Regions from separate parts of the Homo sapiens genome. Here region 1 is linked to region 2. Evidence: fine-mapped expression QTL. A gene starts in region 2. The other region holds a variant in brackets. All regions are shown on one strand. Distances are from middle to middle. Region 1 overlaps SANBR (SANT and BTB domain regulator of CSR). Region 2 holds the start of SANBR (SANT and BTB domain regulator of CSR).

What was found. PIP is the estimated chance that this variant, and not a neighbour inherited with it, causes the effect. A credible set is the group of variants that fine-mapping cannot tell apart.
Region 1: its variant is the best candidate, but not a certain one, in a credible set for the expression of SANBR in tibial artery (GTEx, PIP 0.61).

Annotation. Positions count from the first base shown.
Region 1 is chr2:61,118,699-61,123,096 of GRCh38, forward strand. SANBR (SANT and BTB domain regulator of CSR) reads left to right here. Exons shown (of 22, transcript NM_001129993.3): 21 at 2,487-2,578; 22 at 3,428-4,398. The coding sequence ends at 3,464. Among named protein-coding and RNA genes, the nearest start is that of C2orf74-DT, 24 kb to the right of the region's middle. The variant T/C (reference allele first, on the strand shown) is at 2,247.
Region 2 is chr2:61,063,306-61,067,703 of GRCh38, forward strand. SANBR (SANT and BTB domain regulator of CSR) reads left to right here and starts at 2,566. Exons shown (of 22, transcript NM_001129993.3): 1 at 2,566-2,722. RefSeq lists silencers at 2,346-2,715, 2,746-3,095, 3,106-3,165 and enhancers at 2,455-2,956, 2,957-3,456.

The DNA of each region.
Region 1 (4,398 bases), 55 kb after region 2:
CTACAGGCATGCACCACCATGCCCGGCTAATTTTTTCATTTTTAGTAGAGACGGGGTTTCACCATGTTGGCCAGGCTGGTCTTGAGCTTTTGACCTCGTGATCTGCCCGCCTCAGCCTCCTAAAGTACTGGGATTATAGGCGTGAGCCACAATGCCTGGCCACATTTATGTATTTTTTTATATTCTGTATCAGTTAGCCTGTTTATTCACGTAAAAGTTTTCCACCATGTCTTATTATCCATGGTCCATAGGTCATCTATAACACATATAATAAAGTACATCATTGCTGAAAATGTGTCATCACACCAAGAGTAGGTTAACTGTGCGTTGTTGACCAAATGCTAACTATCCAGCAGGCGACTGTCTGAAAGTACCAATTTTCATCAACTCTGCATGTAGTGCTTAGATGTCATCTCTAAAATAAGATGTCATCTTGCTGAAAATGGTGACAAGAAACACCTATATTCTTGCTAGAATTACATTTTAGTCATGACATTATGTATTATCATTAGTATTGGTATTATGTAAGTACCATACTCTTGCCCTAATTCTTTTATTTAAAAATTTACTTCCCTATAAAACTTCTAAAAGGAAACATAGGAGAAAATATTTGTGACCTTAGGAAAATATTTCTTAGCCTACAACACCAAAAGCATGATCCATAAATGAAAAATTGGACTTCATCAGCATTTAAAATTTCTACTTTTCAAAAGACACTATTTAGACAATGAAAAGACAAGCCATAAACTATGAGAAAATATGTGTAAAACACCTGATAAGGAATGTGTATCCAGAATCTATAAAGAACTCTCAAAACTCAATAATAAAATTTAAAAACCTAATAAAAATAAATGGGCAAAAGAGTAAACAGACACCATGAAAAAAAGGATTTCCATGCCAGATAAGCATATATCATTAGATGTGCTAAGATACAACATCATTAGTCCTTAGGGAAATGTAAATTAAAACCTAAATGAGGCCGGATACAGTGGCTCACACCTGTAATCCCAGCACTTTGGGAGGCCAAGGTGGAAGGATCACTTGAACCCACGAGTTTGAGACCAGCCTGGGCGACATGATGAAACCCTATCTCTACAAAAAAAAGTAACAAAAATTAGCCAGGTATGGTGGTGGATGCCTGTAGTCCCAGCTACTAGCGAGACTGAAGTAGGAGGATCGCTTGAGCCTGGGAGGCAGAAGTTGCAATGAGCCAAGAGCACGCCACTACACTCCTGCCTGGGCAACAGAACGAGACCCTGTCTCCAAAGGGAAAAACCCATACCAAGTGCTGATGAGGATGTGGAGCAACTGGAACTCTCATATATAGCTAGTAGAAATGCAAAAAGGAATGGTCACTTTGGAAAATAGTTTGGCAATTTCTTATAGACATTCCCTCACCATACAGATCAATTCACACATTTTTATAATAGCTTTATTCATAATTGCTAAAAACTAGAAATACTATAAATGATGTCCTTTACCTGGTAAATGGGAAAACAAACTGCATATAAAAAGAACATTGGACCGGGTGCAGTGGCTCACACCTGTAATCCCAGCACTTTGGGAGGCCAAGGCGGGCGGATCACAAAGTCAAGAGATCAAGACCATCTGGCCAACATGGTGAAACCCCGTCTCCACTAAAAATACAAAAATTAGCTGGGCGTGGTGGTGCAGGCCTGTAATCCCATCTACTCAGGAGGCTGAGGCAGGAGAATCACTTGAACCCGGAAGGTTGAGGTTGCAGTGAGCCAAGATCGTGCCACTGCACTCTAGCCTGGGCAACACAGAGCGATACTCCATCTCAAAAAGAACATTGAGCCCAGGAATTCAAGACCAGCCTGGGCAACATAGGGAGATTCTGTTTCTACAAAAAATAAGAAATTAATTGGGCATGGTGGTGCACACCTGTGAGGTCTCAGCTCCTCTGGAGGCTGAGGTAGGAGGATCACCCAGGAGGTCAGGGCTGCAGTAAGCCTTGATCGCACCACTGCACTCCAGCCTGGCTGACAGAGTGAGATGCTGTCTCCAAAAAAAAGGAACAAACTTCTGATGTATGCATCAATATGGATGAATCTCCTATATGTGAAAGAAGCTAGATTCAAGTGGCTACATGTTATATGATTCTACTTATATAATGTTCTGGAAAATGCAAAACTATGGGGATAGAAAACAGACAAATAGTTGCCAGAAATTGGTAGTGGTAGGTAGATCGACTTGACAGGGGAACAAGGGAATTTTCTTGGGGG[T/C]GATAGGACTATTTTCTGTGTCTTCATTGTGACAGTAGTTATAAAACTGTATGCATTTGTCAAAACCCACACCTGTACACTAAAATGGTACATTTTTCTTTATGTAAATTAAACCTCAAAAAGACTGGATTTAAAAAATCAAAATAAAATTACTTCTAAATTAAAAAGTAATCCCATTTTAATAAAGCAGAGCTTCTATTGATTCTGTGAAGATAACAGTATTGCTTCTTTATTCTGCAGTTTGCAGGAGGTATTTATTCCAGGCTGGAAGCACAAATCAAGGCCTCAGTGCCAGTTAGTGCACGCCAAAGCAGCTCAGAGAAAAACACAAGGTAAATCAGCATAAACTAAACCAGAGTGTCAGTGGCTTTGAAGTGAATTTTTTTTTTAAGATAAATCATATGAACACTAGAAACATATCATTTGAGTTTGGTTTTATGTTTTGTTTCAATGATTATATTATCAAGGCACTAATTAGAAACAGATTTTAACTTAAAAGATAAAATCTAATGAAAATATAGCTTTGTGGATTTTTTAAAGTTTTCTGCTTGTTGGACTAGCTTCATTCTGAGCCAACTCCTGATAAAAATGTAAGCTATAGTGCTACTGGAAGTAGCAGAATTTTTGTACTGTTTGTAGATCACATATTAATACTTTATATAAATCACTGTAATCTTTACCACTCCTTGCTTTATATTTTATTTCTCTTAATAAAATCTAACTGATGGGTCTTATGTCATTTTACATCACAAATTTTCTGTTAGAGATTAACAGTTACTGAGATTTGAACATTAATATTACAGATTCTAATTCCTTATTTATGATTCTGAAATCCAGAAAGTTCAAAAAGCTGAAAGTGTTTTCATACATTTGTAGCAATTCAAACTTGCACTGAGCTGCTGTGATACCATTTATATTTTTTATTCATCCCACTTATATTTGATTATGGGGCACTGCTCCAGATCCATTATATACAATGTACATAACGTATTATCTCTGAGAAGTAACAAATCTCAATTCCAAAAATACATCTCCTGTTAAGAGTTTTAGAAAATGGATTACGGAGCTGCAAGAAGATTTATTAAACCTTGATGTTGCCAAGCCAACATAATCTAAAGGAGCACCAACTTCCTATTGTTTTAGAAGCAATTCTGACCTCCTTTTCTGTTTAAAAAATCTAGGTCTAAAAGTCGTTTTGGTCAAGGGCGTCCTGCATAAAGTACCTTAAAATATAAGTAAAAAGAGAGAAGGCACTCTTCTGGACATCTGAAATTGCTCACTTCTTGAAGATCTTCAGAACAATGACTTCCAACTGTTTTATGTTATTATTATTTTAATCCACATAAATCATAATTCTAAAAGAAATGCATAGTTAGGTTTTATGAAAATCTAATTGTAAATATGAAACTTTTTAAATCTGATTTTCTTCTAATATCATTCTAGGCTATGTAGAAAGCAATTATTTACAAATTTGCATAGTTGAGACTCCCAGTGTTTTCCTTTATTTATTTGAAAAAGAAAGGCCTAAACTGTCAGGTAGCCAAGTTTTTTTAAGACCTTAAAAGTTAGGGGAACACAACTGGTAGTGTTACCATGCATGGCACTGATTGTAGTATGTCTTTGGAGCTGTAAATCTTGAGATAGCATTGAGAACTGCAGGTTGTGTGACGAAATTCCCAATGATGCTAATTTTAAGTCTGCATGAATATTAAGGAGTGACAGGTCTCAAGACTGCATTAAATGAAGTTTCAGGGTAAGGTATTTCAGTACTGTGTTGGGCAGAAGGGTTAATTTTTTTCAGCATTATATCGTGGAAAGTACAATGTTAATCCAACTTTTTTTTCTTTCAGTTTTTAATGCTTATCTATTGATCATCTGAGCTGGAATTACTGATTATTACTCTGTCCTCTGTGAAACTAGTGGCATTCTGAATTTGGTAAAATAACCATTGATAGTTTTAGGATAGTAAATCATTTCTGTTATATGAGACACCCACTGTACAGTTCTCAGGGCTCTAAAACCCAACCATATTTCTGTAACCATTCAAATAACTCCTTAAAACAGTTATACTTGCTAGTTCGGTCTAAAATTTTCCAAATACATTAGATAGGTGAAAATTTGCATATATTCAAGAAAAATCAAAATAAAATTC
Region 2 (4,398 bases):
AGCCAACACAAACTCACATTCTGGCCTTTTCTAGATGCTTTCCTCAGAGCTATATATGGGCTTGATGATCTGCCTTCCAAGTTAATATGGGTGACATTTTTCCCCAATACATTTGGGAACAGTCACTAGCCTTCTGGCCTGCAATATGTTTCCACCTGCTAACCAATGCCATATATATCTTAGATCTTTGTTATGGTAGGTGGCACACCACTTTCAGGAACCAACTTTCTCTTCTAGGGAATACACTAAGCCACTGTAACAAAGAGACTAAAAAATACAGTAGTTAAGATAAACATTTTTCTCTCATGGAACAGACCAGAGGTACTCTGCTTCAGAAGGTAATTCAGGGCCCAGGTTCCTGCTATATTGTGTTCTACAGTCCCTTATGTGTTATTCTTTGTTTGTCGTTTTTGAGATGGAATCTCGCTCTGTAGCCCAGGCTGGAGTGCAGTGGCACCATCTCGGCTCACTGCAACCTCTGCCTCTCAGGTTCAAGTGATTTTCCCCCATCAGCCTTGGAGTAGCTGGTATTACAGGCACCCGCCACCACGCCTGACTAATATTTGTATTTTTAGTAGACATGAGGTTTCACCAGTCTGGTCTCGAACTCCTAACCTCAAGTGATCCTCCTGCCTCAGCCTCCCAAAGTTCTGGGATTACAGCGTGAGCTAACTATGCCCAGCCCCTTATGCATTATTCTTGTTTTCATGGTTGTAAAGTACCACCATCACAACTAAGTACCAGCCTATATGAAAGAAGAAAGAGGGGAAGTAGAGGGCAAGCAGTTTCTGTTTAAGAATTTACCTGGCTGGGGCTGGGTGTGGTGGCTCACACCTGTAATCCCAGCACTTTGGGAGGCTGAGGTGGGCAGATCACCTGAGGTCAGGAGTTCAAGACCAGCCTGGCTAACATGGTGAAACCCCATTTCTACTAAAAACACAAAAATTAGCCGGGTGTGGTGGCACACGCCTGTAATCCCAGCTACTCGGGAGGCTGAGGCAGGAGAATCACTTGAACCAGGGAGGCGGAGGTTGCAGTGAGCCAAGATCGCGCCATTGCACTCCAGCCTGGGTGACAAGACCGAAACTCTGTCTCCAAAAAAAAAATAATAATAATTTACCTGGCTGGGCATGGTGGCTCACGCCTGTAATCCCAGCACTTTGGGAGGCCGAGGCGGGCAGATCACCTGAGGTCAGGAGTTCAAGACCAACATGGTGAAACCCCATCTCTACTAAAAATACAAAAAATTAGCTGGACATGGTGGCATGCGCCTGTAAATCCCAGTTACTCAGGAGGCTGTGGTAGGAGAATCGCTTGAAGGGAGGTGGAGGTTGCAGTGAGCCCAGACGGTGCCACTGCACTCCAGCCTGGGCAACAGAGCAAGACTCCATCTCAAAAAAATAAAAAAAGAATTTACCTGACTTAACCTAACATCTTATGATACGACACTTGCCTAACTTTATTTTTATTTTTATTTTTGACAGGGTCTCACTCTGTTGCCCAGCTTGGAGTGCAGTGGTGCAAACATAGCTCATTGGGGCCACCACGCCCAGCTAACTTAAAAAAAAAACAACTTTTTTTTTTTTTTGGTAGAGACAGGGTTTCACTTTGTTGTTCAGGCTGTGCTCAAGCAATCCTCTCGTCTTGGTCTCCCTAAATGCTGGGATTATGGGATTACAGGTGTGAGCCACCGCACCCAGCCACTTTAATGTCTTTGTGGAACAAAAATCGTAAAAGATCTGCAGAAAGTCACAGGATGATACAATTGGTAAAAACTCCTGACATTCTGTACAGTGAACCACTTAATCTCTACTTAATCATCAGATCTCGTAGTAATTATTCATTTGGTTAAGGCTTTACTTTTTCTGTTCTTTCTAATCCTAACATTTAATTTTGGTTCTCAGAATAGACCAAGTGGAAATTAGATAGAAATGTTGACATGTAGCAGTTACCCTACAATATTGAGCCGTTTGCATTTTACTAGATGCCCAATAGTAGTGTTCCTCACAATAACACACACACACACACACACACACACACACACACACCCTATTAATGTATGAAAACCGAATTTGTAATCCAGAGCTATTTACATTTTTAAAGAGCTACCTCCTGGTAAAGACACTTCAGGTCCTTACCCAAAGACCTTGGTCTAAAAGATACTTTCGGTGTCCCTCATCATGCGATCTTTCCGCTCTACCTAAGCGGTGTACCAAATGATCTGCACCAAGAACAATTTCATCCATTCTTTAATCTTTTATCTCCTGTATATCCCCCTTTCTTCTGGACTCAGGGTTGGTCACCTAAGATCAGGCTCCTAGGATCTGGTTGCTAAGAGACAAGACGCTGGGAGGGTGGGGACGCTGCACTGCGACAAGCCTGGGAGTGTATGCCAGAGGAGGAAGGAGAAGCAGCAGGCAAGGCAAGGCGACAGTCAGCCGCCGCCGCCCCTCCGGTGCCCTCCCGCCCGGCAGGGGCTCGGCGCTCATTGGCTCCGCCGCTGCGGCGCTGGCCCGCGATTGGCCGGGCGGCGTCGGCTCGGCGGCTCCCCCACCCCTCGGCGCTAGTCTCCGCAGCCGCCTGCAAGCGGGCGGGGGCGGGGTGTGAGGCGCTGCGGACGGGGTTGCGGGCTCGGTAGCGGCAGCTTCAGGGCGCGAGCGCGGGCGGTGCCGACCACTGCAGGTAACAGAGGCGCTGCGAGGGCAGCCGCGGCCCTGTGGAGGTGAGCGAGACGCCGAGGGGGCTCGGGTGCCCACCGCGGGGCGGGAAGTGCGGCATGGGGCGGTACCGCTCACAGCCAGCCGGCTCCCGCCGCGGCTTCCCACCCCGGGCGGGGTCCCACTTGCCCAAACGCCCCCGAACGCCCCCGTGCACAGCCTCAGCCGGCCGCGCCTCGAGCAGCCAGCTGGCCCGCGTCCCGTCACCCGCCCGGTCCATGTCCCTGCAGACCGTCCCGCCCGCGCACAGCGGCGGGAACCCCAGCTTCTGCGCGCCCGGCCGCGCCCCGGGCCTCTGCCCCGCCTCGCTCCCGCTGCCCGGCGCCTTTGTCCGCTCTGCGCCCCTGGAGTTTCTGTGCCTCCACGGGCGGGAGCGGGGCGCGAAGGTCTGGGGGTGCCCCGAGGACGCGCCGCGTAGTGAGCCTCCGGGCCCAAGGTTTGACTGGCTTTGACCTCATGCCGGTTCTGGGATGTGATTTTACTTTCTCCTCCAGCTGACTCCGATCTCCTGTGTGTGCAGAAGTCAGGAAGCCTGGGTACAAGGCTTCTTCCCGGTCCGGGATGACTCGGTGTTACCGCCGCCCTCTGTTAGGCCAGAGGCCTTTGACCTGCCTGCCTGCCTGCCCCACGGGGCCCCCTCTCTTCCCATCTTTCCACTGGCTAAGGGAAAACGTCTCTGTCTCCAAGAGCTTTTTTTTCTATTTGAAATAAGAAAAAAATATATCAGATTCCTGTTGTAGACCTCTATCTGGTGTGGAAGTGACTTAGACTAGTCTTCTTAATTAATACATGTATATTAAATACATAAACCAAGAGAAGGGGGTCGGGGAGGGGAGGGGAAGTATGTTCTTAAAAAATGAAGTCTGTTAAACATATTGGATTTTTATTTTTGGTAAATAACGTATTTTACCTTAAATATTGTCAAGATTTTGATATTTTATGAATGGGAGTGGATTTCATAGTAATTTGAACTTTGAGCTTTTTCTTGTCACCGTTTTTGATAAATTTATACTTTCCTGAATGAGGTGCACTATAACAGCTATTTCGAGATAATTTATGTTTTATTAAGGATTATCCATCAATGCTATGCCTTTTATACTTAAATTCAGACTCTGATTTCTTGGACATTCATTTAACTAGAATTAATGCTGGGGGGTCTTCCCTTGCCTAGTACAGTTGTATAAAGAGAAAGTCAACAGAAAAACTTTTTTCTCATTTGGATGATTTAAAGTACTCTTAAACATGTATAGCATAAATTAGTATCACATTTGAAATGTAAGCTTTTAAGTGTTTGACGTGGGTAATATTTTTGAACTTTTAAATGAATCTTTTTGGAAGTGAAGAGAAATGAGCTCTCAGGGAAGATCCTTGCCCTGAATTCCATTTTAGATTGCTTTCTACCAAGGCCCAAACAAATTATAATAAAACGCCCTGGCCGGGTGCAGTGGCTCACGCCTGTAATCCCAGCACTTTGGGAGGCCGAGACGGGCGGATCACGAGGTCAGGAGATCGAGACTATCCTGGCCAACATGGTGAAACCCTGTCTCTACTAAAAATACAAAAATTAGCTGGGCGTGGTGGTGCGTGCCTGTAGTCCCAGCTACTCGGGAGGCTGAGGCAGGAGAATCGCTTGAACCCGGGAGGCGGAGGTTGCAGTGAGCCGAGATCGCGCCACTGCACT